Linked DNA regions of Homo sapiens. The protein of the gene in region 2 interacts with the protein of the main gene of each other region in a pairwise test. Each region holds a gene or a part of one and is shown on either strand. Other genes may lie near its edges.

The links.
Region 1: the proteins of JMJD7 (region 2) and GCM2 interact in binary tests that used the Homo sapiens proteins (3 or more experiments, as listed by UniProt).
Region 3: the proteins of JMJD7 (region 2) and POGZ interact in binary tests that used the Homo sapiens proteins (3 or more experiments, as listed by UniProt).
Region 4: the proteins of JMJD7 (region 2) and OXER1 interact in binary tests that used the Homo sapiens proteins (3 or more experiments, as listed by UniProt).

The regions. Positions count from the first base shown.
Region 1 is NC_000006.12:10,879,042-10,886,452, forward strand, and holds the start of GCM2 (chorion-specific transcription factor GCMb), read right to left. Parts: upstream 3,001-7,411; 5' UTR 2,753-3,000; coding exon 2,663-2,752; intron 1-2,662. UniProt on the Homo sapiens protein: Transcription factor that binds specific sequences on gene promoters and activate their transcription. Through the regulation of gene transcription, may play a role in parathyroid gland development.
Region 2 is NC_000015.10:41,831,079-41,838,093, reverse strand, and holds the end of JMJD7 (bifunctional peptidase and (3S)-lysyl hydroxylase JMJD7), read right to left. Parts: intron 3,355-7,015; coding exon 3,201-3,354; intron 3,125-3,200; coding exon 2,871-3,124; intron 2,507-2,870; coding exon 2,450-2,506; intron 1,947-2,449; coding exon 1,851-1,946; intron 1,620-1,850; coding exon 1,543-1,619; intron 1,314-1,542; coding exon 1,154-1,313; intron 1,027-1,153; coding exon 938-1,026; 3' UTR 513-937; downstream 1-512. Other genes in the region: JMJD7-PLA2G4B protein, read right to left, coding at 1,543-1,619, 1,851-1,946, 2,450-2,506, 2,871-3,124, 3,201-3,354. UniProt on the Homo sapiens protein: Bifunctional enzyme that acts both as an endopeptidase and 2-oxoglutarate-dependent monooxygenase.
Region 3 is NC_000001.11:151,421,471-151,428,495, forward strand, and holds part of POGZ (pogo transposable element with ZNF domain), read right to left. Parts: intron 6,944-7,025; coding exon 6,653-6,943; intron 6,572-6,652; coding exon 6,353-6,571; intron 3,592-6,352; coding exon 3,485-3,591; intron 2,817-3,484; coding exon 2,479-2,816; intron 2,082-2,478; coding exon 1,927-2,081; intron 1-1,926. UniProt on the Homo sapiens protein: Plays a role in mitotic cell cycle progression and is involved in kinetochore assembly and mitotic sister chromatid cohesion.
Region 4 is NC_000002.12:42,761,979-42,768,341, forward strand, and holds OXER1 (oxoeicosanoid receptor 1), read right to left. Parts: upstream 2,158-6,363; 5' UTR 2,085-2,157; coding exon 930-2,084; 3' UTR 521-929; downstream 1-520. Other genes in the region: HAAO (3-hydroxyanthranilate 3,4-dioxygenase), read right to left, coding at 5,459-5,537, 5,617-5,699, 5,882-5,950. UniProt on the Homo sapiens protein: Receptor for eicosanoids and polyunsaturated fatty acids such as 5-oxo-6E,8Z,11Z,14Z-eicosatetraenoic acid (5-OXO-ETE), 5(S)-hydroperoxy-6E,8Z,11Z,14Z-eicosatetraenoic acid (5(S)-HPETE) and arachidonic acid.

The DNA.
Region 1 (7,411 bases), on a different chromosome or scaffold from region 2:
TAAGGTTAATGGGTGATTTTGTTTCCAAAATTACAAAGATATTGTTGAAATCATTATTACTACCATAGGTATTATTTATCTTTTCTCTGAAATATTACAATTGACATGATACATCAATGTAAGGTAAGTCACAAATGAAATATATAATGATGTGCTATCAACTCCAAGCTTATATTAAATGCTAATATCTTTGTTTTAAAAGTGAATATTTTAACTTAAGGATCTTAGTAACAAATTGACAATTTTCCAGAAAACAGCATTTCTTTAGCTCTCCCTTAAGGATGTAGACTAGGCCCCCATGCCTCACACGAGCTACTGAGGTAGTGACCCTGGCAATGAAGCCACAGAGATTGTATTTTTAAAATCAGTACAAGAATAGAGGATGTCAAGGATTGGGTTTCACTTGCTCTCAAGTGTTGGCATGTTGTGTGTGTGTGTACATACACACACATAGACACTGAACCTGATCGTAGACCTGGAGGAGAGTTTGAGATGGTTATCTCACTCTACCACTTGATGACAAGTGAGTAAGTAGCCTGAGACTAAGGCAAATTCAAGGACTCTCTCAAGGTCAGACAGGTAGTTTAACTTGCTCACTCGGTTACCCAGAGCAGGGCGATGCTAAGTTTCTTCACTTCTCCATGTCCCAGTGTGCCTGGCCCGTTTGAGATATTACACACATGCTTCCTGCTTAACAACCAGTCTCCTAAAAAAAAGTTCATATTGACATGGGAAGTCTAGCAAATGCTTGAGAGATGAACCATAATTACATTACTTGGATGTGACTTTTCTAAAATGCAAGATATGATTGTTTCCTGTGAAGATGTACATGGACAGAAACAGAATGAGATGCACTTGCTGTACTGTGGTCCACTTTCATGAAAATGGTACCATGTGACTCTAAAGTAGGCAGACTTTAAAACAAAGGAGTGGGCCAGGCACGGTGGCTCACGCCTGTAATCCCAGCACTTTGCGAGGCTAAGGCGGGTGGATCAGCTGAGGTCAGGAGTTCGAGACCAGCCTGACCAACATGGAGAAACCCAATCTCTACTAAAAATACAAAATTAGCTGGGCGTGGTGGCGCATGCTTGTAGTCCCAGCTACTCGGGAAGCTGAGGCAAGAGAATCGCTGGAGCCTGGGGGATGGAGGTTGCAGTGAGCTGAGATCGTGTGATTGCACCCCAGCCTAGGCAACAAGAGCTAAACCCCGCCTCAAAAAACAAACAAACAACAACAAAAAACCCCAACAAACAAACAAAAACAAAGGAGTAAAACACACCTAACCTACTACAAATATATGGATCCAAAAAAGTGCTGACCTCTATGAGAGGCGACACAATGTTGCAATGAATTGTTATTCATCTGAACACCTATCAGACACATTTTAGTTGCGGACAAAATGACCCATCTCTTTTATCCCTGTGCCACAACATTGCTGGAAGCCCACATCTGCAAATGGCAGGGAAGCAACTCTCATTCTACACCCCCCACCCCCTACAGCCAGGACTTCAACATCACTCAATTTTGGCCCTAACCAGTGTGACTAATGATAATTGGTCATTCTCTGGAACTGGCTTCAAACCACCCACTTCATTCACCACTTCATCCACCCCAGTCATTCTTTGGACTTGGCTCCAAACCATTTTTGCTTTATTGAAATAAAGCAAAATACAACAAATTCACCCTAAAAGAATGATGATTTGCTTGTCATTAGAGAAGAAGTAAGTTTTGGGTACAGGTGGCCTTGTTGGCATGACTATGGGGCCTCCTTCCTCTGAGCAGTTAGGGAGGTCTGAGCAAATTGCTCAAGTCGGGCTACTTGTTTTAAATTTAGGTCATTAGATTCACTTTACAGTTGTACCTCAGTTTTGCTGCATGAGAAGCAGTGGTATTTACATCTGCTTAGATTTTCTCCTTAGCTTCCTCATGGATTTAAAGTAAATGAATAAGGAGAGAGGCACCTAATTTCTACCTTGGTTAAAGGGAAGTGAAAGGACAGGCGTCCCGCTCTCCCCAAGACTGGGAATGTGGAGCCTGACCAACATTTCCTGCTGCTTTGCTTGTGATTTCAGGCAAGCACAAGGAAATTGCTGGGAGAAGACACATTTCTTCTTCTTCTTCTTCTTCTTTTTTTGAGATGGAGTTTTGCTCTTGTTGCCCAGGCTGGAGTTCAATGGCGTGATCTTGGCTCACCGCAACCTCTGCCTCTCGGGTTCAAGCGATTCTCCTGCCTCAGCCTCCCGAGTAGCTGCGACTTTAGGCATGCGCCACCACGCTGGGCTGATTTTGTATTTTTGGTAGAGACGGGGTTTCTCCATGTTGGTCAGGCTGGTCTTGAACTCCCGACCTCAGATGATCCACCCGCCTCAGCCTCCCAAAGTGCTGGGATTACAGGTATGAACCACAGCGCCCGGCCAAGAAGACACATTTCTAAACCCAACTCAGCCTTTTGTAGAGTCCAGTTTTCTTTCTACACTTGAGAGGGCCTCAGAAACCCAGAAATTTTGCGGGTATGTGTGTGTGTGTGTGTGTGTGTGTGTGTGTGTGTGTGTGTGTGTGTGTGTGTATGGTCCGTCCGCAGACTCTTCAAGAACTCGAATGCCATTCTCCCTCCTTCGGATGGACAGCGCCCCGCGTGCCCGCACACACCCGGTTCACTTACCTGAGGCATCTGCGGATCGTTGATGTCCCAGCTGAGCTGCATCCCGTAGGAGCACACGCCGACCGCTTCCTGCACCGCGGCCGCCGGCATCTGCCCAACTCGCTCGCGCTTTCCGCCCAGGGTTCTGAAAAATAGAAGAAAAAAGGACAGGTGCGCCAGGTGGGTTTTTTTTCTTCTCTTTAAAGAAGAAAGTGGGGTGTGTGAAGGGGAGGTGCAGAGAGAGAGAAAGAGAGAGAGGCTGTTTAGATATCTGGAAGCTGGGGACAATGGTTATGGACCCGGGCGGGGCCTTGTCCTTGGCCGCGGTGCTGAACGTTCTCCACCCGAACGGCAGCATCGACCTCTGGCAGCTGCCCCCTCCTTTATAAAGATATACCTCCGGGGGGCTCCGCCCTGTCTCGCCTACCTCGCTAGCGCCCACGCTCCAGGGGCCGGTCGCCCCCTCCACCACAGTCCCAGGAACGGAGGTGGAGGTTAAACTCAGCCCTGGAAGCAAATGGAAACTGCAGCCAGAGGGTGGGGGTGGAGAGGGTAAGTAGGAATGTATCCTTTAAGTTTAAAACCTTATTATTTTCTTCTTTTCTTTTCTTCTTTTTTGTCTCACTCTGTTGCCCAGGCTAGAGTGCAGTGGCGCCATCTCAGCTAACTGCAACCTCTGCCTCCCAGGTTCAAGCGATTCTCCTGCCTCAACCTCCCGAGTAGCTGGGAATACAGGTCCGTGCCACCACCCTGGCTAATTTTTGTATTTTTAGTAGAGACAGGTTTTAGCCATGCGAAACCCTGACCAAGCTGGTCTTGAACTCCTGACGATCTGCCCGCCTGGGCCTCCCAAAGTGCTGGGATTACAGGCGTGAGCAACCGCGACCGGCCTATTTTTTTTCTTTTTTCTAAACGCGTCCAGCTTCCCTGATTTCGGAAAGGGGCTTAGATGGAGGCTTTCCAGCAAAGTCCCCTGAGAGCCAACACTCAATTCCAGGAGAGCATGGGAACCGTGCGTGGGCCCCTCTGCCGTCCGCGTGCGCCCTAGCCTGAATAACCGCGCCCACGCCTCCTAGTTAGGGGTCAGCCCATTTTGGGCCTCCACTGCCGGCTCTTCCCCTAACTATTGTGAGTGTCTCGCAGTCTTGGCTCTGCTGTTTGGGACGTGCCAGGGTGCGCCAAGCCTCCGCGTATGCTCGCGAGCCCAGGCGCCTTCACGCTCCCGGGGACTTCGGAGGGACCTGGCCCTGCAGGAACGGAGTCCTACAAAGTGAACCTGGAGGAGGTGGGGGGCGGAAATGAGCCCGGGGTAGGTGGGAGCCTGGGGTAGGTGGGAGCCTGGGGAAGGAGGGAAAGGGGAGAGGGGAAAAGTCCCAAAGAACTCGCTTTCTCCACTGCTTTGGCTCCCTCTGGGTCTCAGCTTCCTTATCTGTTTATCTGTTAAATAAGAGGTTGTGGTTCGGCGAGCTCTCAGTTGCCACCCACCCGAACACAAATCTTTTTTTTTTTTTTTTTTTTTGAGACGGAGTCTCACTCTGTCTTCCCGGCTGGAGTGCAGTGGCGCAATCTCGGCTCACTGCAACCTCCGCCTCCCAGGTTCAAACGATTCTCCTGCCTCAGCCTCCCGAGTAGCTGGAACTACAGGCGCGCCATCGCGACCAGCTAATTTTGTATTGTTAGTAGAGACAGGGTTTTACCAAGTTGGCCAGGATGGTCTCGATTTTTTGACTTCGTGATCCTCCTGTCTCGGCCTCTCAAAGTGCTGGGATTAAAGGCGTGAGCCACCGCGCCCGGCCCACAACTCTTAAAAAAAAACTTCACTGATATAGTCTTGGAAATATCACGACGAAATTGAATTTACTCCATTACAGTCTTGGGAGGCTTTGGAGGACTAGAGAATCGCGGTGGTGCGGAGGTGCGCAGGACAATGTGGGTTCTCCGGGGCTGGGACGAAACCTTCATCATCTGAGCAGCCGACTCGCCCAGGGCTACTCCGGCACATGGAGACCCTCAGTATATATATATATAAAAAAAACAAAAAACAAAAAACAAACAAAACAAAACAAAACCGATTGAAGTGACTAAAGTCACTCTTTGACTACCCCAAGGCCGGATTCTTGGCGGCCAGGGGAAAGGGCTTCTGGAATTTATTGCCCGCGTCCTTGTTTTGCAGCTGCACGCTTCCATTCCCAGCCCCAGCCAGAGAAGAGGAGCCAACTCCTCACGGCAGATCCCTTGATAGAGGAGGATGAACCGAATCCATGACCCTCCAGACCCGGGAAGCGACGCACCCTAGGCCTTGGCACCGCAAAGCCCGTGCTGAGCGCACGGACGGGTGCTGCCCGGGACTCGGCCAGGAGGGCGCCCATGCCAACGCCTCTTGCAGGATTAGTGCCTTCGGTTGGCAAAAGGCGGATAAAGGAAGAGCGAAACCACATCAGGAAGCTAAGGGTGGTCCACGCTCCCTGTCCTTTTACTTCCCGCGCCAAAGGCACAGTGAGGCTTGCTTAGAAAAGTCCATCCCGCGATTGGGCGCAGTGGCTCATGCCTGTAATCCCAGCACTTTGGGAGGCCGAGACGGGAGGATCGCTTGAGCCCAGGAGTGCAAGACCAGACTGGGCAACATGGCGAAACCCTGTCTCTTCGAAAAAAAAAAAAAAAAAAAAAGCCGGGCATGGTGGCGTGTGCCTGTAGTCCCAGCTACTTGGGAGGCTGAGGCGGGAGGATCGCTTGAATCCAGGAGGCAGTGGTTGCAGTAACCTGAGATAGCGCCGAGCCTGGGCGACAGAACGAGACCCTGTCTCAAAAAAAAAAAAAAAAAAAAGGAAGGAAAGAAAGACAGAAAGAAAGAGAGAGAGAGAGAGGAAGGAAGCAAGGAAGGAGAAAGAAAAGAAAAAGAAAAAAAAAAGAAAAGGAAAGAAGAAAGAAAAAGTATCCCAGTCGGTCAGAGAAGCCTGCCAGTGGCAGCGGACCAGCGAACTCTGTTGGGAAGAAAGGCCAACTTCGAGCAGTTCCTCGCGATTTTTTCCTCCTTTATCTTCTAGCTGGGGTCCTCCTCCCAGTCAAAGCCGAAGGGTCCTAGCAGAAGAAAGTGATTTGTTCATTCCCAGCCTCCTTTCTCCCGAAGTTCTCCCCTCCTAAAAGGTCCTGTCAGTCAAGGTTTCTGATTAAAATCACTCTCAAATGGTCGCCACTGAGGTCTAGCTGGGAACGAAGAGATCTGTCTACTCTTCACCCACGAGTTTCATTCACAGATTTTTCATCTTATTAACTGTCTGCCAAAGGTCCCCGAAACTCCTGTTGATTCAGTTGCTTTTCGTGTTGTTTTGTCTTCCAAAATTGAATGAAAATTTATTGATTATCCATTTTAATTATAGTATTTCATTAAATGTTGTAGTCTAAGATAACTTATCCTTTCAAATGTTCTAAAAATAACTTTAAAATGGTGATTTAAAGTTACCTCTGAAAATGCATAGAAATTAATTTTTGGTCTTATTGCAGTGCTAGAATAGTTCTTGTCTCTGTGCTTTTGGAATGTTCCTAGAGAGACCTGACCCGTCAAAAACATAAATAAATAAAACTTTTTTATGTAAAAGGCAAATCAATTAATTTCTAAAGGGATTCTGGTATCCAAAGAAATGTCATAGAGCCTCTACTATATTTAGTTTGAGAAGAATTAGAGTATGCATTTCAAGTTGCCATAAATTATATTAAGACAAAACATGTTAGTAAAAGAAGCTAATCAAAGTAAAAAAAAAACCAGATAAAAGGTATTTTGCCTATTCTGTTATTTTTAATTTCTCTTAAAGATTTGAATGCATTGCACCATAGACTTTGGAAGGACATGTTTTCCCCCAAAGCCTGAAAATAATAGATGATTAAGTTTTCTATCTAATATTATGAAAACTCTAATTTTTAAATATTCTCTTAAAATTCATTTAAACTGTAGTATTTTGTTTATTGCTTCTTATTATTCATTGTTTCTTTCTTGCCCTGGTATTATATTTGTATTGACTCACAATAGCTTATACTCACAGCTGTTCCTGTCTTGATTACTAGTTTAATATTACAAAAGTCCATTCATTGAAAAGGAAAAAAACTTGCGTTTGAATTTCCTTGGTTTAGATTAAAATAGGTAAATTAATGTAAGAATGTTTACATTATACTTTCCAGGAAATTGATATGACAGGCTTTGACATAAACATTGTTTTGAACGGACTAGAAATGTGTGCAAGTCCTGGGCTAACAGGGGTTCTGGTTTTGTTATGTTTTGCTTTGGTGTAGACAAATATCTTCCGTACATATTATGACTTGAAATACTCACAGGTCTAGTTATAATACAAGTTGATTTTTACACAAAGGATGTTTGGATTGGAGGGGTCTTTTTTTTGTTTTTTGTGGAAAACTCTAGTCCAATTTAATTTTGCCACCGTGTTCACACAACTGGCCACCTATCCGAATCAGCCTAGCCATTGGTACGCATACTTGTCAGGTTAAAGGAAATAGGCAAACAAAGAAACAAAAAAACAAAAACAAAAACAAAACTATTTGCTTTGATTAAAAAAAAAAATTCCCCTTCCTCCCCACCACGGTACTTAAAAAACAACCACCAAACACACTTTGTGTGTGTGTGAAATCAGGAATGTATTAATAATATCGGGTACAAGTCTGGTTACCATAGGAAAGGGTTCGGCTTCTGTCTGCACACATCAATGGACCAAAAACTGCTCCTCTGGCTGTTTTTTTTTTGAGACGGAGTCTCACTCTGTC
Region 2 (7,015 bases):
AGGTCTGCTTGCTTGTCCCAGGGAGGGGCTGCGGTGACTCTCATGGACAGCGGGACTTGGGCAGCTGACGGCTCTTTGGGCCCAGGCTGGGATCCAGCCCTCACCCCCAGTGAAGGTCACCCTGAAGTTTTTACCTGAACCTTCAGGCCCTCCTTAGACCACAGAAGGCAACTTCAAGAGGGAGGATCAGAACATACGACTCATAAGCCAGGCGCAGCAGCTCACACCTGTAATCCCAGCACTTTTGGGAGGCCGAGGCAGGTGGATCACGAGGTCAGGAGATCAAGACCATACTGGCTAACACGGTGAAACCCCGTCTCTACTAAAAATACAAAAAAATTAGCCGGGCATGGTGGCACGCACCTGTAGTCCCAGCTACTTGGGAGGCTGAGGCAGAATAGTGTGAACCTGGGAGGCGGAGCTTGCAGTGAGCTGACATCACACCACTGCACTCCAGCCTGGGTGACAGAGCGAGACCCCATCTTAAAAAAAAAAAAAAAAGGACATACGACTCACAGCTACCTTTTATTCAACATGTCCTGTGTGCCAGCTCCATGCTGGTCCTCATAGACATCATCTCCAAGCCCACAACAGCCCCGCGAGGTACAGCCATTATTATCTCTTTACTGACAGGACACCAATGCCCGAGACGCAGTGACTCGCCCAACATCACAGCGCTGGGGAGAGGTGCCGCTGCACCTGATCCCCACTCTGCTCACCTGTGTGGCAACTTCCTGAGAACCCTCACCCAGACCTGCCTGGCACCTTGAGTCCTTATGACCACATTCCAAGATCCTCCAAAGCTGATCTCAAGCCATGCTGGACCCGGGGCCAGCAGCCAGCATGCACACTCCAGGCTCTCTCGAGAATTGACCTGGCCAGGGAGGGGCTGGCTCCGTCCCCCGAGGCGTGCTTGGTGGTGTTCACCAGTGCTCCATCAGTCAAGGCCTGAAGCCTTGGTGAGGGAGTCGAGCAGCTGGAAGTAACTATACTTGAGGTCGTATTCCATGTCATACCAGAAATTCACTGTGGGAAGAACGGGGATCTGAGCATGAAGATCCCTCTTCTGACCTAGAGCCTCCCAAGCCTCCCCCCAGAGGCCCTGCTGGACCTTGACAGGGCCTCTCCCCAGGCGGCCTGGGCAACTCTTCACCTGCGATGCAGCCCTGGGACTGCTGGACGTGGTGGAACCACAGAGCCGGCAGATAGAGCATCTCACCGGCCCGCACCGTGCAGCGAAGGGCCTGGGCCTGACTGTAACTAGGGTACCGTGCTAGGTCTGGCGCCAAGGGGTCCAGTGGGATCCAGGGCACCTGGGAACACATCAGATGCCAGGGAGCAGCCCCCCAGACCCCCCAGGACTTCAGGCTCTGTCCCTTCCAAAGGTCAACACCACAGGCCCTGCTTGGCTCAGCAGTGAAAGGCCTCAGACTTAGAGACTTTTCAGAGCAAGGTGCCACCTCCCCAGATCTTTTGTGCCTGTTCTTCAGAGCCAGGCTTCTGCCCTTCTCCCTCCCTAGAGCCCAAGAACAGGACAGACACCTTCTCCATGGCCTCTTCATCCACCACCTTAAAGGTGCCCTCTTCAGTTAGCTGGTAGGTTGCCGGCGTGTACAGCTCTGGAGCCCAAGGGAGAAGGGTGTGGGGGAATTGCAAACAGCCTGGAACTTGCCAGACCCTCCTCCACCCCAGCCAGCCCTGGGCAGGGGCAAGGGGATCAGGGGCCCTGGTGCACTGGGGATGCCACAGCCACACCTCAGGCCTGGGAACTGGCCTCCCAGGCTCTTGCTGCCTCCCTCCCCCTTGGGCCAGCTGTTCCCCAGCCCCTCCCTGCAGGCCACATCCCCTACCATAGGGGATGAAGGGCCGGTCGCTGGGCGGATGGAACAGGAAATGCTTCTCTCCTGAGACCACGCAGTAGAGGTTCTCATAGTGGTCCTTGTGCACTGCCAACAGAAAGAAGGCCCGGGGGCAGGGTATGGAGGGCAGGGGCACGGGAGGAGGCAAACCATCATGCTGAGAGCCCTGCACCCCAAGACGTCCTATGACAAAAGAGAAGCACGCACAGAGCCAGTGGGCTGGAGATGCCAGGGGCTCTGATGGGCATTCTGGAACTCTGCCTACCAGGGACCTGATGCTCACCAGGCCCTGGACTCCTCTTCAACAAGAGGGGAAGTTCTCCTACACTTACCCCCTGGCCCAGCGGGCCTTCAGGGAGGTTTCTTTGGGTCTAGAAGAAACAATGCACCCGCCCCCAATGCCATGGGTCCATTCCCCGACCTCAGCTGTCAGGGGAAACCCTCTGTGGTGCCCGAGTCCTAGAAGCCAAAAGAAATCTTAGAGAACAGCCCAACCTCCACCCAGGGCCATCCCTCCACTCCTGGCCTCGTCTTCCCTCCCTCTGCCCCAACCTGCTCCTTCCCCACCTTTGTATTCCCCTTACACCTACAAGAAGTCACTGCAGCCGCCTCCCCCAGCCAGAAGTTCACAGCATCGGGCATCTTTCCTGCAGGGCAGAAGGCAGAGAGCAAGTTAGGAAGGCCAGGCTGGGGAAAGCTGCCATCCAGTGATGCCAGAGCCAAAACCTGGGTGAGCACAGAAGAATCCCAAGAAAGGGGTCAGGGAGAAGAGGCAGAGGTTGGGAAATCTTGGGGAAGGGGTCCTCCCTCCCTGGGGCAGAAGGAAGGACAACAATCTTTGGCAATTCATCTATGATTAAGTCAAGGCCTGGGAATGTATTTAGTGAGCTGCACCAGATGCTGACAGGACCAAGCCCATAGGCCAGGTCATCACCTAAGGGCAAACAGGCTGACCCCCCTCCTTCCCATATCTTCCCTGTCCAGGGCCACGACCACCCCACCTCCACTCACCCAGGGCTTCGGAGGCCCAGGGCACATGGGATTCCAGATCAGGCAGCAGCTGGGGCAGCTCGCTGGGCAGGTTGGAGCACTGCTTCTGCACATAGAGGACTCCAGGGTGCTGGGCCCGGCCCTCCAGCACATCCAGCACGAAGCTCAGGGGCAGGCGGCGCTCAGCTGGCATCATGAAGCGATCCCCTCTCACGGCATCCGCGTAACCATCTGGGGTCACGGCCACACTCACCTCTGTGGAGCCCACTGTGGCTCTAGAGGAATGGACACTCAGCCCATGCCCAGATGCCAGTAATCACTGCTCACACCTGACCCCAGGGCAGCTCCCACCTGAAATAGGGGAGGGACCACTTCTGGAGGGCCGGCCAGTGCTGCAGAGCGTTGCGGATAATGCACGGCCTGTTGGGGCAGACCCAGTCCCGGTAGAAGTGGAGCGGAGTTGGGGGTTTGTCCAGGTAGGGCACAGCAAGAGGCACGCAGAGCTCTGAGAGAAAGAAGAAGACAGGGGATGGAAGGGCTGATGTCTGCAGCACCCAGTCCCTGCCCAAGAGATGCCCTCCCTGGAAAGGCCGCGCTGTGTCACTGGGAAATGCTCGTTGGTGACCAAAGGACCCTGGACAACCAGTAATAGAAAGATGAGGACGGAAAAATGAAAGCAGAAAGCATCACGCACACACACCAGCATGGGCCCTGACCGTCCACAGGGCCAGAGGCTGCTACCCAGCCCATAAGCCAAATCCCCTGTGGGGCTGTGTCTGCACAGTGGACCCTATGCCTTCCCACCCTGGAGAGGCCAGCCTCCTAGCATCTACCAGGAAAGGCCACCATGGAAGTGGCATTGGGAGCTCCAGAATGAGTAAGGCTGAGGCCCCATGGCCACGGGCTATTCTGGGTGTTGTGTGGCTCTGGGAAGCCCCCTTTAACAGTGACATTTACTGAGCACCAGGAATGTGCTCAGCACTTGGCTTGGCTAATCTGGGGCTATCAGGGATGACACAATCATCATCTTAAGAAATTTACAACCTTCTTACCCGGGAAGACAAACTACCAGATGACACCAATGGAGGAAAAGGAAGGGCTCGGCTATGGTTTGGGTCCTGCTGAACAGCATCACCATCTCCAGACACCCAGGGCCACCACGTACACTTCGGCAGGCTGCGTGGTGTGCCGCCTGCGCAGGGGTCTACAGTGGCCCTGTGTCACCTCTAATCAAAATCTTTTTGACTCAGCTTTCTCCTTCACTCCCGTCATCCTACTGATTGGCTCTGAGTCCTGTTGATTCTGTCTCCTATGTCTCTCAAACCCACCGTCTCCTCTCCTCCACTGGCATCCACATTCCAGCTACCTCCTTTGGGTCCTCACTCAAATATCACATTGATAAGACTTCCTTCTCTGACTATACTTTCTAAATTTATAATCTGTCCCCCTGCTGCAAATCTTTATATCCCTTTCCGTATTTTTTCTCGTTAGCATTCATCACCATCTGACATGCTATATATTTTAGGGCTAGACGTGGTGGCTCATGTCTGTAATCCCAGCACTTTGGGAGGCAGAGGCAGGAGGATTGCTGAGGCCGGGAGGTCAAGACCAGCCTTGGCAACGTAGGGAGACCCCATCTCTACAAAAAAATTAAAAATTAACTGGACATGGTGGCATGCACCTATACTCCTAGCTACGCTAGAGGCTGAAGCCAGAGGATCACTTGAGTCCAAGAGGTAGAGGCTGCAATGAGCTATCATCGTGCCACTGCACTCCAGCCTGGGTGACAGAGCAAGACTTTATCTCAAAAAAAAAAAAAAAAAAAAAAAATATATATATATATATATATATGTATTTCACCTACATAAACTGTTTATCATTCTTTCACCCTTGCTAGAATGTGAACTCCACAAGGGCAGAGACAGTTGTCTGTTCACTGATGCACCCCTGGGACCTAGAACAGTACCTAGCACATAGCATGTGCTCAGCAAGTATTTGCCTAATGTTGAATAAAAGTCTCCAGTATCCTGGCTGGATGGTTGCAGTAGTGAACTAGCTGGTTTCTCTGGCTTAATTCCACTCCCACCCAAAGCATTCATCATCATAGCCCCAGTCATCTTCTGAAAATACAATCTCATATTGTCACACCCCTAGTAACAAATGCCTTGATGGCTTACCACTGCTCCTTAGAGAATGCTGCCTGCCTTGGCACGCATGACCAGGCCCAACCTACTCTTCCAGTCTGATTTCCTGTCTCGTGCCTGCCCTTGCCACACACCCTCTATTCAGGTGGTACCTTTGTTCCAGCTGCTCACTCAGACTGGAGTGTCTTTCTACTGGTTTTTATAAAGTGTACAGGGCTTCGCTTTGCTACATTCATGCTCTAGGTCGAGCCAGAAGGCCGTGGTTCCCATTTGGTGGTTACCACATGCTGCTCCAAATGGTCCCAGCACTGATGTTCACCTCTGAGGTTACGCTGCACCTCTCACAGCAACACCATGCCAGTCACCTTTACTTTCTGATCAGTTGGAAAGTGAATGTTCTTAGATCAAATATTGTAACTGAGTGAGAAGACCCCACTGGGCCCAGGAATACTGGAAAGGAAAGAGTTGGTGTGCCTGCTTGCTTCCCTGGCTAGAGGCAAGATGGCACCCATCCAGTAGATATGGAATCCAGGAGACAGCAAAGTGGCAAAGGCCTTCCCAGTCACGCCAGCCCATCCAAGCAGTCACCTTGAGAGATGGGGTGGTCTGGGGCTCAGTACATCTTCCTGTTGTACTCGCTGAGATTAAGAGACAGAGTCTTGCTCTGTTGCCCAGGCTGAAGTGCAGTGACGCAATAATAGCTCACCGCAGCCATAAACTGTCACGGGATCTTTGGGGTGTTGCTTTACCAGCTGGAAACCTCTGTGGCCAGTGATGCCTTTGCCTGTTTTGCTCGGGCCCATTGGGCCCACTCGGCCCTGCAGGCTGTGCTCAGCTCATGCTACCGGCCTGGATCCCACACCTGCCAAGGGCGAGTGGGGCAGCGAGGGGTGTGTGAGCGAATGAGTGTGGGGTTTGGCCACTGCGCACAGCTAGGCATGTGGGCTGCGGTGGGGCAGGCAGCTTCAGGTGCCAACACAGGTGCTGGTTTCCTGCAAGGCTGCAGCTAGACCAGGTGTACCATAAGCAGCTTCCACAGCTGACACTGGGAAGCATGGTGGTGCCTGGAAGCTTGCAGATACCAGGAACCGCAGAGCCCTAAAGAGGGTGTCAGAACCCCAGCTTGGGAAGCTCCTGGGTCTGGACTCCCCAAAGGGCCGCAGTTCTTCTTTCCTTCTGGACACCCACAATGTGGCGAGCAAGACGCATGGTTCAGTCCTCTTCATGTTACAGCTCTTTTAGCCCCGCCACTCAGCAGGTCCCAATTCTTGTCCTGCATCCAGGAAGAATGAGGTACACACAGACAAGCAGAGGGTAAACAAGACAAAGAGGAGCTTTACTGAGCCATAGGATAGCTCAGAGGAGACCCACAGTGGGCAGCTCCTCTCCGCAGCCAGGGTGTCCCAACGAGTGTTCAGCTCTCAGCAAAGAGGATAGCTCCTCTCTCTGCAGGCAGGTAGTCCTGTTGAGTGTTCAGCTCAGCAGAGCTTTGTTCCAGCTGCTCACTCAGACTGGAGTGTCTTTCTGCTGGTTTTTATAAAGTGTACAGGGCTTCGCTTTGCTACATTCATGCTCTAGGTCGAGCCAAAAGGCCGTGGTTTCCATTTGGTGGTTACCACATCCTGCTCCAAATGGTCCCGGCACTGATGTTCACCTCTGAGGTCACACTGCATCTCTCACAGCCACACCATGCCAGTCACCTTTACTTTCTGATCAGTTGGAAAGTGAATGTTCTTAGATCAAATATTGTAACTGAGTGAGAAGACCCCACTGGGCCCAGGAATACTGGAAAAGAAAGAGCTGGCATGCCTGCTTGCTTCCCTGGCTAGAGTAGCTCCTCTCTGTGGGCAGGTTGTCCTGTCATCTCTCCAGCTCTCAGCAGAGAGGGTAGCTCCTCCCCGCAGCTGGTCGTCCCATCGTCTCTTCTGGTCTGGCTGAGTCAGGGGCTTTTTATGGGTCTCACAGGGGAGGAGGTACATGCCTATTGGTCCATGGGCAGCCATGGGTGGGCCGGAAAAAGCA
Region 3 (7,025 bases), on a different chromosome or scaffold from region 2:
ATTAATGTCAATCCCACTTCCCTTGCCAATAAATGGTCAAAGAGATATAAAAGGAAAGCAATTCTCACTCATAAGAAAACAGATTCAAGAAAGAAAGATGGGAAGATAAGATCTCTTCTTTGTCTAACAATTTTTTATCTGGACATAGTGCCTGACACTTATACAGCCACCCTGCTATGAGCCAGAGACAAGAGAATTGTTGAAAACCAGCAGGGCAGTCAAATTCTAGGCTGAAGCATCCATTTCTGTATCTCTCAGTTAAATGATATAACAGATATTCTTATTGTTTTCTTTTGTTTTGAGACAGAGACTCGCTCTGTCATCCAGGCTGGAGTGCAGTGGTGCGATCTCAGCTCACTGCAACCTCTACCTCCTGGGATCAAGTGATTCTCATGCCTTGGCTTCCTGAGTAGTTGGGATTACCTGCGCACACCACCACAGCCAGCGAATTTTTGTATTTTTAGTAGAGATGTGGTTTTGCCATGTTGGCCAGACTGGTCTCCCCTGGCCTCAACTGATCCACCCACCTAAGCCTCCCAAAGTGCTGGGATTACAGGTGTGAGCCACCACACCCAGTCCTTATTGTTTAATTCATTTTTAGTTAAGGATTTTTACTTGTAGCAAATGCATCCAGATAATATGCATATGTCTTCTATGCTTTTGATCATGCTGTTTTCAATCACCTAAAAGCTTTTCTTACTACTCTCCATCCATCTAAACCTTTCTTAAATTTAAGCACGACTTTCTTGGAAACCTAGCCACAAGGATTTTTTCCCTTCTCTGAAGTATTTCACCTATCAATGATATCTTAAAATGTCTATGTTTATAATATACTATCTTGTTCTCACATTTTCCTATATTTACATAATTTTTGTCTTTACAACAAAACTGGAAATCCCGTAAAGGACATGAGAAGTATTCTCAATACTGGGCTTAAATCCTCACTATGTATCCCCAGTAGAGGTGTATTTAGAGGTGTACGCTCATAAGCAAATGACTCAATTTCTTTGAGCTTATGTTCAGCCTACATCTATCTATAAAATGTACAGTGTAGAAAAACATTCCAGCTTACCTTATATTTCACTGAAAGCACTGTCTTAATGATAAAGTACTTCATAATATTATCTTTTTTTTTTTGGAGATGGAGTTTTGCTCTTGTTGCCCAGACTGGAGTGCAATGGCATGATCTCAGCTCACTGCAACCTCCGCCTCCCGGGTTCAAGCGATTCTCCTGTCTCAGCCTCCCGAGTAGCTGGGATTACAGGTGCCCGCCACCACACCCAGCTAATTTTTGCATTTTTAGTAGAGATGGGGCTTCGCCATGTTGGCCGGGCTGGTCTCGAATTCCTGACTTCAGGTGATCTGCCTGCTTCGGCCTCCCAAAGTGTTGGGATTACAGGCGTGAGCCACCGTGCCCGGCCATATTATCTTTTATCCTACTTAATTTCTTTGAGCTTATGTCCAGCCTACATGTATAAAATATACAGTGTAGAAAACACTCCAGCTCATCTTATATTTCATTGAAAGCAATGTCTTAATGATAAAGTACTTCACAATATTATCTTTTAGCCTACATAAAACCTATCAGGGTTTAACTAAAGTGGAAGAGCAAATAGATGACTGTTCCTTCTATAAAGAGACCTAAGAAATAAATTAATTACATTTGTTTTTCTACAGTGGTTCTGAATCAACGCCCCTAACAATTCAGGATCTAACACTGAACTCAATCCATGCTTGAACAAAATAAAAGTCAGGCTTGTAAAAAAAAACAAGGTGAATGAAGTAAAGAACTGGCTACAAATATGAAAAGTACTTCCTCTACACTGTTACCCACATGTAAATAAATATAATGGGCTCCCCCCAGCGCCATTCAATGAGTGAACAGCAAGGTATATTCCCCTTGAGTTTAAGAGTTTCCAAACTTACTAGTAGATTCATAGGGACTATGAACATTTTCCAAGTGGCACTGAAGCTGGAAGGGAGTGGAAAACTGGCGGTAACAGTGCTGGCAGATAGTGTGACCATCTACCTCACCGTTCTGCTGATCGAGTTCTACGTGGTGTTTCATATGGTTCATGAATCTGTAATAAAGCACAAAGAGAAAGTACAGAAAACATAAAAAATTGGTAGCCTTTTAGAAATATAATGGTAAAATCACAGAACAAACATTATCTGCTCCCCTCCATTCCCCAGACTTCCTGTTTGGGATATCCTTTTCTGAGCCCAGAAAGATAATGAGTTCTTGAAACTAAGAGAGTTCTGGGAAAGGAGACATACTGCTTTCCCTTACTCGATCCAGTTACCTTTTGTTTATTACCACAATATCTCCTTCTATAGTCCTAGTTATTGATTTAATGATAACCCCAGCAAGACTGCATAGTAGTTAGGTCCATTCTCCAAAGAGAAAGACTTAAAATATATAAGAAAATGTAAGTCTTCTCTTGTTCAAGGTAACTTCCAAGGCTCTTAAACACTTACCGAATATTGTTTTTTAGCCTTTTGGTACAATGTGGGCATCGGAAAGATGTGGCGACCTTAGGGAAATTTGTGAGCTGGGCTACTTTGCCACCATCCCGTCCATAGTAGAAGTCATCTACAAGCATAATGAGTTTGGTCTGGACGGCATCGCCCACGTTCTCATTTGGTTCTGGTACTTTGGTAGGCGGTGACAGAGCAGGAATAGGTGTAGAAGAGGGTGTGGAAGCAACAGGAGCTGTTTTCTCAGGGGATGGGGGCTTTGCTGCTGATGGGACACTGGGTTCTGAATCCAGGGACTTTCCTTTCTTCTGGTATTCAACCATTTCTGGGCAACAGTACTATAAAGAAAGACATCTGATCATTCTGGTTATCCTGGGGGCTAGAATGTGCTAACTCCTTAACTTCACTACCATTCCTTGTTAACGGTTTGGTTTCAGGTATTCTCATTCAGCTTTCACCCTTCAGTTTTTTTTAGCGTTTCCAAGTTTTACTCCTTTTCTAGAGTATATCCACATATGCCACCCAAGCGCTATACTTTGTATTTCTCCCTCCTGCCTGTCTTAGGTCCCTTAATCATTAGTATAACTTGGCTCTGAGCTCCCTGGCAAAGAAGAAGTTCCAACCTTTTTATCTGGACTAATACCAAAAAATGAAAAGCTAAAAAATGGAAGTAAGAGCTCCCGATTCATCCAATGACACAATTAACAAAAATGAACTGAGGCCAATATGGTTTGAGTCCTTATTATCTATAAACCTGTTCTCCTGTGTGGTTTCAAAATCTACCACACTAAGAAAGTAAGATCACATATGTTCTGATCTATTTGAGGGTCTTTAAATGTATCCCATCACATTCCAAAGTACACAGCTCTTCTAAAAACAGACCAAGAGAAACAGTAACCCTTTAAAAAGCTTCAGTCATTTTAGAGCCCCTGCTTACAAGCTTCCAATATTAATGAAGGTAAATGGCAGAAGCCACTTAAGCTGGATCACAGGTGATATCACTTACACACATGTGACCTCTCAAAGCTTCAGTAACACGAAATTGAGCATTACATCGTGGACATATTTTCCGTCCACCATCCTGGAGGTCAAATACTGGGATGGAAGAGGTCACTGAAAGAAGTGAGAAGAATTGATAAGATTAATACAATGACACTGGAAAAAGATTACTGACCTTTTGGGAAAAAGTCAAACACTCCCTGAGAAGTATATAAAAGGGTAAGCAAGCATGAGAGATCACTATGGTTTTTGTTTGTTTTTGTTTTTTTTGAGACACGGTCTCTCAGTCTGTTGCCCAGGCTGGAGTGCAGTGGCACGACCACAGCTCACTGCAGCCTTGACCTCCCTGGGCTCAAGATCACTATGTTTGAGGCTTCCTTTTACTGTTCTAACTCTAGGCCAGGGGTCAGCAAACCACAGCACACAGATCAAATCCAGCCCAGCTACCAGTTTCTGTTTGGCCCATAAGCTAAGAATAATTTGTATGTGATTTTTTTGTTAAGGTTTTTGTTTTTTTTAATCTTGCAGAACTGAAGCTATATCCAATAAAAACCTCCTCACCATTCTCCCCTCGCCTCCACCCCGGCAACCACAATTCAACTTTGTCTCTATGAATTTGACTACTCTAGGTACCTCAAGTAAGTGGAATCATATGGTACTTGTCCTTTTGTGACTAGCCTATTTCACTTTAACATAATGTCCTCAAGGTTCAACCATGTTGCAGCACATGTTGTAGCAGAATTTCCTTTCTTAAGCCTGAACAATATACCATTGTATGTGAATACCACATTTTATTTATCCCTTTATCAGTTGATGGACCTCTGTGTTGCTTTCACCTTTCAGCTATTGTGAATAATGTTGCAATGAACATAGGTGTACAAATACCTGTTCTAGTCCCTGCTTTCAATTCTTTTGGGTATAGAATGGAATTCCTGGAGCATACAACAATTCTATCATTTTTAACTTTTTGAGGAACCACCATACTGTTTCCAAAGTGGCTGCATAATTTTACATTTCCACCAACAGTGCGTAAGGGTTCTGCTTTCTCCACATCCTCAACAATATTTGTTATTTTATGGTTCTTTGATAGTAGCCATCCTAATGGGAGTGAGACGGTACCTCATTGTGGTTTTGATTTGCATTTCCATAATGATTAATAACACTGAGCACCTTTTCATGAGCTTATTGGCAATAACTTTCTTTGGAGAAAGGTCTATTCAGTCCTTTGCCTACTTTCCTACTTTTTTTTTTTTTTTTGAGATGGGGTCTTTCTCTGTTGCCCAGACTGGAGTGCAGTGGCACAATCTCGACTCACCACAACCTCTGCCTTCCAGGTTCAAGCAATTCTTGTGTCTCAGCCTCCCGAGCAGCTGGGAATACAGGCACACACCACCACGCCTGGCTAATTTTTGTATTTTTAGTATAGACGGGGTTTCACCATTATTGGTCAGGCTGGTCTTGGACTCCTGACCTCGTGATCCACCTGCCTTGGCCTCTCAAAGTGCTGGGATTACAGGCATGAACCACCACGACCAGCGAGTCCTTTGTCTATTTTTTAAAAAGGTTGTTTGGGAGTTTTTTTGTTGTTGAACTGCACAAATTCTTTATATATTCTGGATATTAACCCCTTATTAGATACATAATTTGCAAATATTTTCTCCCATTCTGTGGCTTCCCTTTTCACTGTGTTGACAACGTCCTGCACAAAAGTTTTAAATTTTGATATAATTTAATTTACTCATTTTTTCTTTTCTTGCGTATGCTTTTGGTGTCATATCCAAGAAATAGTAATCACTGTCAAATCCAGTATCATGAAGCTTTTTGTCCTATAATTTTTCTAAGAGTCTTATAGTTTTAGTTCATTTAGGTCTTTGATCCATTTTGAGTTAATTTTTGTATTTATTGTAAGGTAAGATCCAACTTCTTTTGGACATGGATATCTAGTTTTCCCAACACCATGTTTTAAAGGTTTTTACTTTTTTTGAGACAGGGTGTCGTTCTGTTGCAGTGGCATGCTCATGGCTCACTGCAGGCTCAACCTTCTGGGTTCAAGCCCAAGCCATCCTCTCACCTCAGACTTCTGAGTAGCGAGGACTGCAGACATACACCACCACGCCTGGCTAATCTTTTTTTTTTTTTTTTTTGTAGAGATGGGATCTCACCATGTTGCCCAGGCTGGTCTCAAACTCCTAGGCTCAAGTGATCCTCCCGTCTTGGCCTCCCATAATGCTGGGATGAGGTGTGAGCCACTATACCTTGCGGTTTTTATTTTTAAATGGTTGAAATAAAAGAATAAAACTTTTCGACACATGAAAATTTTATGAAACTTAAATTTCAGAGTCCATAAATAGTTTTTAGTGGAGCACAGCCATGCTCATTCGTTTATGTATCTGTGGCTGCTTCCCCACCACAACAGCACAGTTAATAGCTGCAACAGAGGCTATATATTGTGCACAAAGCCTACAACTTTACTACTAGGCCCTTTACAGAAAACATTTGCCGACCCCTGCTCTAGACCACTGAAAACCCTCATGCTCATCATTCTCAACCTGAAGATCTCTCTACCAAATCCTAACTTTAAAACCTTGCTCAGAAATCCATCTCTTCCATGAAGTTATCTTTCATTATCTCACCCATCTTTAATCAATCAATTTCACTAATCTCCAAAGCACAATTACACACATAATTTCTTGGAGCTGATTCAGTTACACTTTTTGTAAGTGGCTTTCTCCTTACTAAAGTTTCTGTAAGAACAAACTACAGCAGCTGTATTTTATTTTATTTTTCTATTTCTGAGTATAAAGCTCTGATACAACAAACACTTTATTAATGTTTTTGAATGACTGGCTGCTCAGAGTCTTTCAGGTTATTGTACCTTTCATTGAAGACTCAGGTCCGCTGGTTCTTTGAGAGCCATGAGCAGAGCTGTTGTTGGACACCACCACTGGCCCAGGACTCTGGCCCAGGGAAGGGATGGTGTTAAGGGTATTCACCAATTTGGCCACTTCATTGCTATTTTCGCCTGTAACACCAGGTCGCTTCACAGTGACAAAGCTGGCAATGCTCACTGCAGGTGGAGAGGGGAAGGAGGGAGCTACGGTGACCAAGTGATAATCATCTGTTCTCCACCCACCATCCCAACCTGGCTCTGCCATCTCCTCTTCCGAAGCCTTACCTAGCTTGGGATTCGTGGTCTGGTTTGACTGGCCTGGAGACTGAACAGCTAGTTGCCCCAGTGAGGTTGGCTGTGTGGCAGTGGGAGTGGTAGAAGTGCTGGGAGTGGACTTGGTCTGCTGGGACTGGGACTGTGGGACGGTGCTTCGAATGGTAAGAGTGGCCGGGATGACGGTGGTGAAGGTGTTGGTGGTGGGCCTCACAGGCATTGTGGAGCCTGGCCTCACAGGGGTCATCTGGGAGAACACTTGTGGAACTCCAACTGTCGGCTTAACAAACTGGGTACCTGGGGCTTTAAAAGAGAGACAAAGTACCAGATCTTGGTCAGTGAGCTCACCTATAACACATTCTCCCTGCCTTTACTGGAAAGATTA
Region 4 (6,363 bases), on a different chromosome or scaffold from region 2:
GGCTGGAGATACACGGTGGAGGCGGGGTCTGGTACTCACCCGCTCATCCTTCCCGGGCCCACCTCCCTCTGCCTGATACTTTTTCTCTCGCTCCCTCCCCAGCATCCACATGGACCCTTGATGCCACCCTCCTGGTCTGTGTGTGACACTTCTGGGCTTTCACTTCTATTCCTGACGACTTTAGTAGCTGGGGTGCGTCCTGTCCATGATATGAGAGGGCTGGGCTAAGTGGATTGAGGGAACTGGGGAGGGATGTTAGGTCCCCAGCATCAAACTCTGTACCCGAGGGCCTGGAGCCCTGGTGGCCTGCCTGAGGCCTCACCCAAGAAAGCAGTTCTGCCTTTCAGGACATGCCGGGGCTTCCCAGAAGTTCTGGGAAGGACAGTGCCCCCTGGGATGGGGCTGTGGGATGGCTTCCCCACTCTCTCCCAAGTTTCCCTTCACCTTGGGGCGCTCACTTTGACGCCTACTGACAGTCCCAGGTTAGAATTAAAGACAGATATTTGGTCTTGCAAATAAATATATTTAAAAGGGAAGTTTATTAATATTGGAAGGGACAAACTGGAGAGCACAGAACATGCAGCTGTCCAATTTCTAAGGTGACTCTGCTGTGACAGTGATTGGCGTCTGTCCCCTGCAGCTGCGCAGGCCCCTGTCTGAGCTGGTGTGCCAACGGCACCTTGCCTGTCTCCTCCACCCGGCATCCTGCTCTCCCCTGCATTCTGGGAATGCCATCCTGGACACACTGAGAGGCCTAGGTGGGTTTCTCTCCCTGCCACCCACCTGAGTCCTGCCAGTGCTTTGGCCTGGCCCCTGGTCTGCCGCCATCCCTTGTCCAGTTGGTTGAGGCACCGTGTGCTGGCCTTGTCCCTCCAGGCCAGAGCGCGGCAGCCCTTACCCCCACAGCGCTGCAGCCCTGCAGCTGGCCCTCAGCCCTGGGAGGAGCCTTCCTTTTCCAGAGAGACCTCGCCCTGCACTTTCAGCTTCCCTATGGCCTCCGCCTTCCTAGAGGCCTCCCGGTAGCGCCACTGCCTGGAGGGTTGGTAGGAGCTCTCGTCGCTCACTGGGCCCTGCCGGCCCCGCGTGAGGCCCAGCAAGGCCCGGCTCTGGTGGAGGAAGTTGGGGCTAGAGAAGCAGTAGAGCACGGGGTCCAGGACACTGTTGAGGTAGGTGAAGGCCAGGGAGCCATGGAAGAGCTGTGTGCAGAGGTCCAGGGATCGGCAGGCGGACAGCCAGAAAGCCACCATGGAAGCCATGCCAAAGATGATGCTGGGCAAGAAGCAGATGGTGTAGACGGCCACCACCATGGCCAGCACACGCATGGCCCTCTGCGGGCCTGCCTGCCCGCCCAGACCACGGTTCCGGATGGTGAGCCCAATGCTCACAATAGCAAAGAGGATGAGCGCCAGTGGCAGGAAGAACTCCAGCAGGTACAGTGCCTGGTGCCAGCGGAGCGAGGCCGAGGGCTTCGTGCCCACCCTGTAGCTGAGGCAGGAGGGGCCGGAGAAGGTGCTCAGGAGCAGGTGCCCGTTGAGGAGCAGGATGCCCACCCAGAGTCCCCCGGCCACCCGGGCAGCTGCCCCCACGGAAGCACGGCTCAGCACGTGGTGGGGCTGCACCACCTTCAGGTAGCGGTTGAGTGCGATGGCTGTGAGGAAGACAACGCTGGCCGTGCGGTTGGTGGACAGCATGAAGAGGTTGACTTTGCAGGCAGCAGCCCCAAAGCGCCAGGTCTCATGGAGGAGGTAGTAGTCCACGCGGAGGGGCAGGTTGCTGATCAGGAGGAAGTCAGCGGCCACCAGGCTGACCAGGAACACCGTGTTGGAGGTCCAGGGCCGCGTGTGGATGCAGAAGATGAAGAGGGCCAAACTGTTCCCCACCAGGCCCAGGACAAACTCCAGGGCCAGGATTGGTGCCAGGAAGGCAGACACCAGCGAGGAAGAGGTGGGGTGGCAGGGCCCTCCAGAGGACCCCCCCACAGTGGTAAAGGCAGAGGGAGCAGAGGAGGGTGAGGGAGAGAAGGAGGGAGGGAGAACAGAGGAGGAGAGAGAGGGAGATGGAGAGCTCAGGTTATGAAGTTCCATGGGCTGCTTGGGCCATGGGCCTGAGAGAAGGTTCTGGAGTCTTCTACCCCTGCAGGAGTGCTCAGGGCAAAGTGGGATGATTGGCACTATCAGCTGGCCACCACGGTGACACAACATCCTGGGGTTTTCATCAGCATTCTCGCAGCCACTGAGAAACACCCTGTGTTCCTGTTTGCAGGCCAAGGGGAACCCTGCAGCCCTCCCTCCTTCCCTCCGCCTCGGGGTACTGAGTGATCCCACCACATGAGGTCTCTGAGCCCAGCCTGGGGGTTGTGCTGCTGGTAGAGGAGGAAGCAGGGCTCAGCAGGGGCAAGATGGAAGCCCAGAGAAACCCTGAAGTGGGAGGATAGTCCAGCCGGGTGAGGTGGGGGCTCTCAGGATCATGCAGCCCTCCCTGGACACCCCCTCCTCCACTACATATAGAGGCTGGTGGCTGCCTCCCTGCCCCCACCAGCTCTGGCTTCAGGGACTGTGGAGCCAAAAGGACATTGTCCTGAGAGGTAGGCAGGGAGTCAGTGAAGACCTCCACCGCCCTGCTGGTGGCCTGGAGGGAACCAGTCCTATTTGTGCTCCGCCAGCCTGCTGTGTGTCTGAAAGCCCACTGTAGTTCAGCTTTCAGTTGCTCCCAGGTTCCTGATGGTTCCGAAGTCTGTGATGGTCCCAAGTCCGGGTACACGGTGAAGTAGGCCCCATGGACGGGGACGCCCCTGCCAAATTTCTACTGCCATGGCACGGGGAGCTGGGGGCTTCTCCCGCAAATAGAACAATCCTGATTTTTCCCTGTCTGTGTCTCCCCATGGCTCCTTGTCCACTCCACTCCTTGCCCCCATTAGCATTCACTGCGGAATAGGGAGTGGGAGGCTGGGGCTAGCTCCAGACAAGGTACAAGTCCAGCTGTCCCATGGTGAGGTATTCTCATGAGCCCATGGGCTGGTCCTGTGGGTGGAGATGAGGGCTTCAGGCTCCTGATAACCCGGGACAGCAGGGCCAAGGGAGGTGCTGGTTCCAGGCTCCAGGGCCTGACCCCATCACTGCCAACTGGCTGGGGTCAGCAGTCTGCCATGTGTGGCCTGGCCTCTGTGTCCCAGGCACAGTGGCCCCTGGCCTCTCTTGGCTGCCCTGGGCTCCCATTTGGTCAAGGCTGAGGGCAAACATCCCTGGGAGAAGCAGGGTGGTGAGGCCCAGCCTAAGCTCCATATGCAGACAGGCCTGGGTTGGAAACAGAGCTGCCCTATTTCCAAACCTCTCTGAGCCTGATCTGTAAAATCAGGCACTACCACCTTCTTGGAGAGTTGTGAGGATAAAATGAGATAATTTATGTAAAAACTTATAGGCCAGGCACAGTGGCTTAAGCCTGTAATCCCAGCACTTTGGGAGGCCGAGGCGGGCAGATCACGAGGTCAGGAGATCGAGACCATCCTGGCTAACACGGTGAAACCCCGTCTCTACTAAAAATACAAAAAAAGTAGCCGGGCGTGGTGGCAGGTGCCTGTAGTCCCAGCTACTCGGGAGGCTGAGGCAGGAGAATGGCGTGAACCTGGGAGGCGGAGCTTGCAGTGAGCTGAGATCGCGCCACTGCACTCCAGCCTGGGCAACAGAGTGAGACTCCGTCTCAAAAAAAAAAAAAAAAAAAAAAACAAACTTCTAGGGGATTCCTTGGGACAGAGCGAGTGTTCACAAAAACAGATCTAATTTTCATGACTTTCTCTCTGGATTAAGCTTGCCCTGCATATGAGAGTAAACTCTTCTCTTCACGGCCATCGGTATTCTGACCTGGGTCCTCCCTGGAACATTCTATGTCTTCTTCTCAGGTCCTGCACGGAGCAGTGCATTGCTACAGGCCAGGAACGAGCCGCGTGGAGCCTCTGCCTGTGCCTATCCTGGACCATTTGTGTTTGAAGGAGCCTGATGGTGTTTTTTCTTTGCTTGCAGGAGAGGAAAGCCCTTAGGGGTGACGAGGAGGTTGAAGGTCCCGATGTCTCTTAGGGCCAGTAGCCTTTTCAGCAAAGGCAGGTCTTTCTCTGCTCCCAGTGGAGTGTAGGAAGGCAGTGAGCCACTGGGCTGGGGATGAGGGAGACAGGGGTCAAGTGTTCTTTTCTAGAGGAAGCTTTGAGTCCACGCAGGGACCTGTTCTGTCCAGATCTGTCACTCTCATGTGCATGCCCTCATTGACTTCTCACGGAAGTCCCAGGAAACTGAGCTGCGCCCGCTGCAGGTTCCACATTCTTGTCTCTTCCCACTGGTGCCTCTGAGGCCTCCAGCATCCCTAGACACCCATAGCAGGCTCAGGGGTCCCTCTGGAGTCTTTGAACAGGGCACCTGTGCATGACAGGGGAGGGAAGGGGACACAAGGCCAGACACCCCCACCAACACTGCTGAGCTCCTGGTACAACTTCATGCCCCTCTCCAGGCTGATCATAGTCTTTAGGTATTAACAGTGGTTAGCTCTGGGTGGGGGATTTTGTGTATTTCTGGGTTTTCTATAGTTAGCACAGATGACTTCTGTTATTGGAAAAAAACTCAACAGATGCTAGTGTTTTAAAGTTATGTAAAAAGACAGACTGGGCAACATGGTGAAATCCCCATCTCTACAAAAAAGAAAAAAAAAATTAACAGGGTGTGGTGGTGCATGCCTGTAGTCCCAGCTACTCAGAAGGCTGAGGTGGGAGAATCACTTGAGCCAGGAGGGTCAAGGCTGCAGTGAGCTCTGATCACACCACTGCACTCCAGCCTTGGTGACAGTGAGATCCTGTTTCAAAAAAAAAAAAAAAGTAAAAAGAATAAATGAGAACAGAGAAGGAAGTGGAGAGATGACATTAGCCGTGCTCCCAGGACCAGGCATGGAGCATGCGTGGATCAAGTCACACACACAGTGAAGAATGCCCATCCACAAACAGGGATGCCCAATAACAGACCCTCCAACACGTCCATGGTCACCTGGTGCCCTGATGCCCCAGACACACCACATGGTCCTGGGGGGCACATGGGAAGGCCAGTGATGACTGCCTGCGGCAGACCCCCAGGTGTGCGTTCCTCAGGAAGCCTTTATTGAGGGCCTTCTTGGTGTGGAAGTGCTGCACTGAGTCTGCAGGGACAGAGGAATGGGCAGGAGCGGGGCCGGGGGTAGACCACCTGGCAAGACTGGCAAGGCAGTGGGCTGAGTCTGCCAGAGAAGATGGGGAGCTGCTGCCCGCCCAGGGGCATGGCATCTGGGCTGAGAAGGGCAGGAGGGTGGGTGACAACAATGTGCAGGTCTGTGGGGGACACAGCGGCAGTACACAGAGAGGTAGTGGGGGCTGGGAGAGTTGTTTGGCAGGGATGGCACTCGAGGGTGCTTGGCACACCTGTGGCTGCTTCAGGCCATGGCAAGAGGGTCACCCCAGGGGCTTCTTGCAGGCAGGGTCCTGGGTCACAGACAGGGCCACAGAGCCTTGTGTTCGCTCCCAGGCATACCTGTGGACACACAGATGAGCAGGGATCACACAGAGTTGGACCCTGAGGATCCCAGGGAAAGCCCTCCCTGCGTACTCACGAGGTCCCAGCTAGCACCAGGAGGCTGTCATCAGGGGCCAGGCTCAGGCGCCGTCCCCCCATTGTCACCACCGAGGAGCCCTCCTGGAGAAGAGGAGCAGGAGAATCAAATGGAGACTGTTGGGCCTCATCACCTGGGTGAATGTCTGAGTCTGCCTGGGCCCCAAGGCCCCAAGAGTGGGCCCCGTGTGGGAGCCCAGGGCCGAGGAGCGGGCTGATGCCCTCTGGCAGGGGGTTCTGCAACCCTGTCCCTGGGCCCCACTTGCCAGCTGCCACAGCCACACGTCCACATTCTGTCTCAGGCCTTCGCTGCTGCCTTGCCCATAGGCGATCACCTGGTGGGAGGTGAAACAGAAACTTCTGGTGCTTCTTGCCCCACATGGGAGATGGTCTTGAACCTGGCCCCCAGACACCAGGCCTGCTTGGAGCAGGGTTGGGGCCCATGAAACAGCCCCATCACCATGTGCTGAGCAGAGACCAGGACTTGGAGAGGAGGGCTGCCTGGGCTGCAGGCCTCCCTGTGCCCGCCGCTGCAACAGGTATTTGGGATCACACATGCCTGCCTTTCACGTGCAGTGCACCCGTGGTCCCTCTGATGTGTGCTCATGCGAAGGCATGCTCACCAGGGCACATGAGGGACGCATTTCCATCAGCTTCCCAGAGGGTGCCACCTCCCTTTCTCTGAGAGAGGTTATGAGTCTGGCCTCAGGAGGAGGAGGGGACAAGGAAGGTGAGGCTGAGGGCTCTC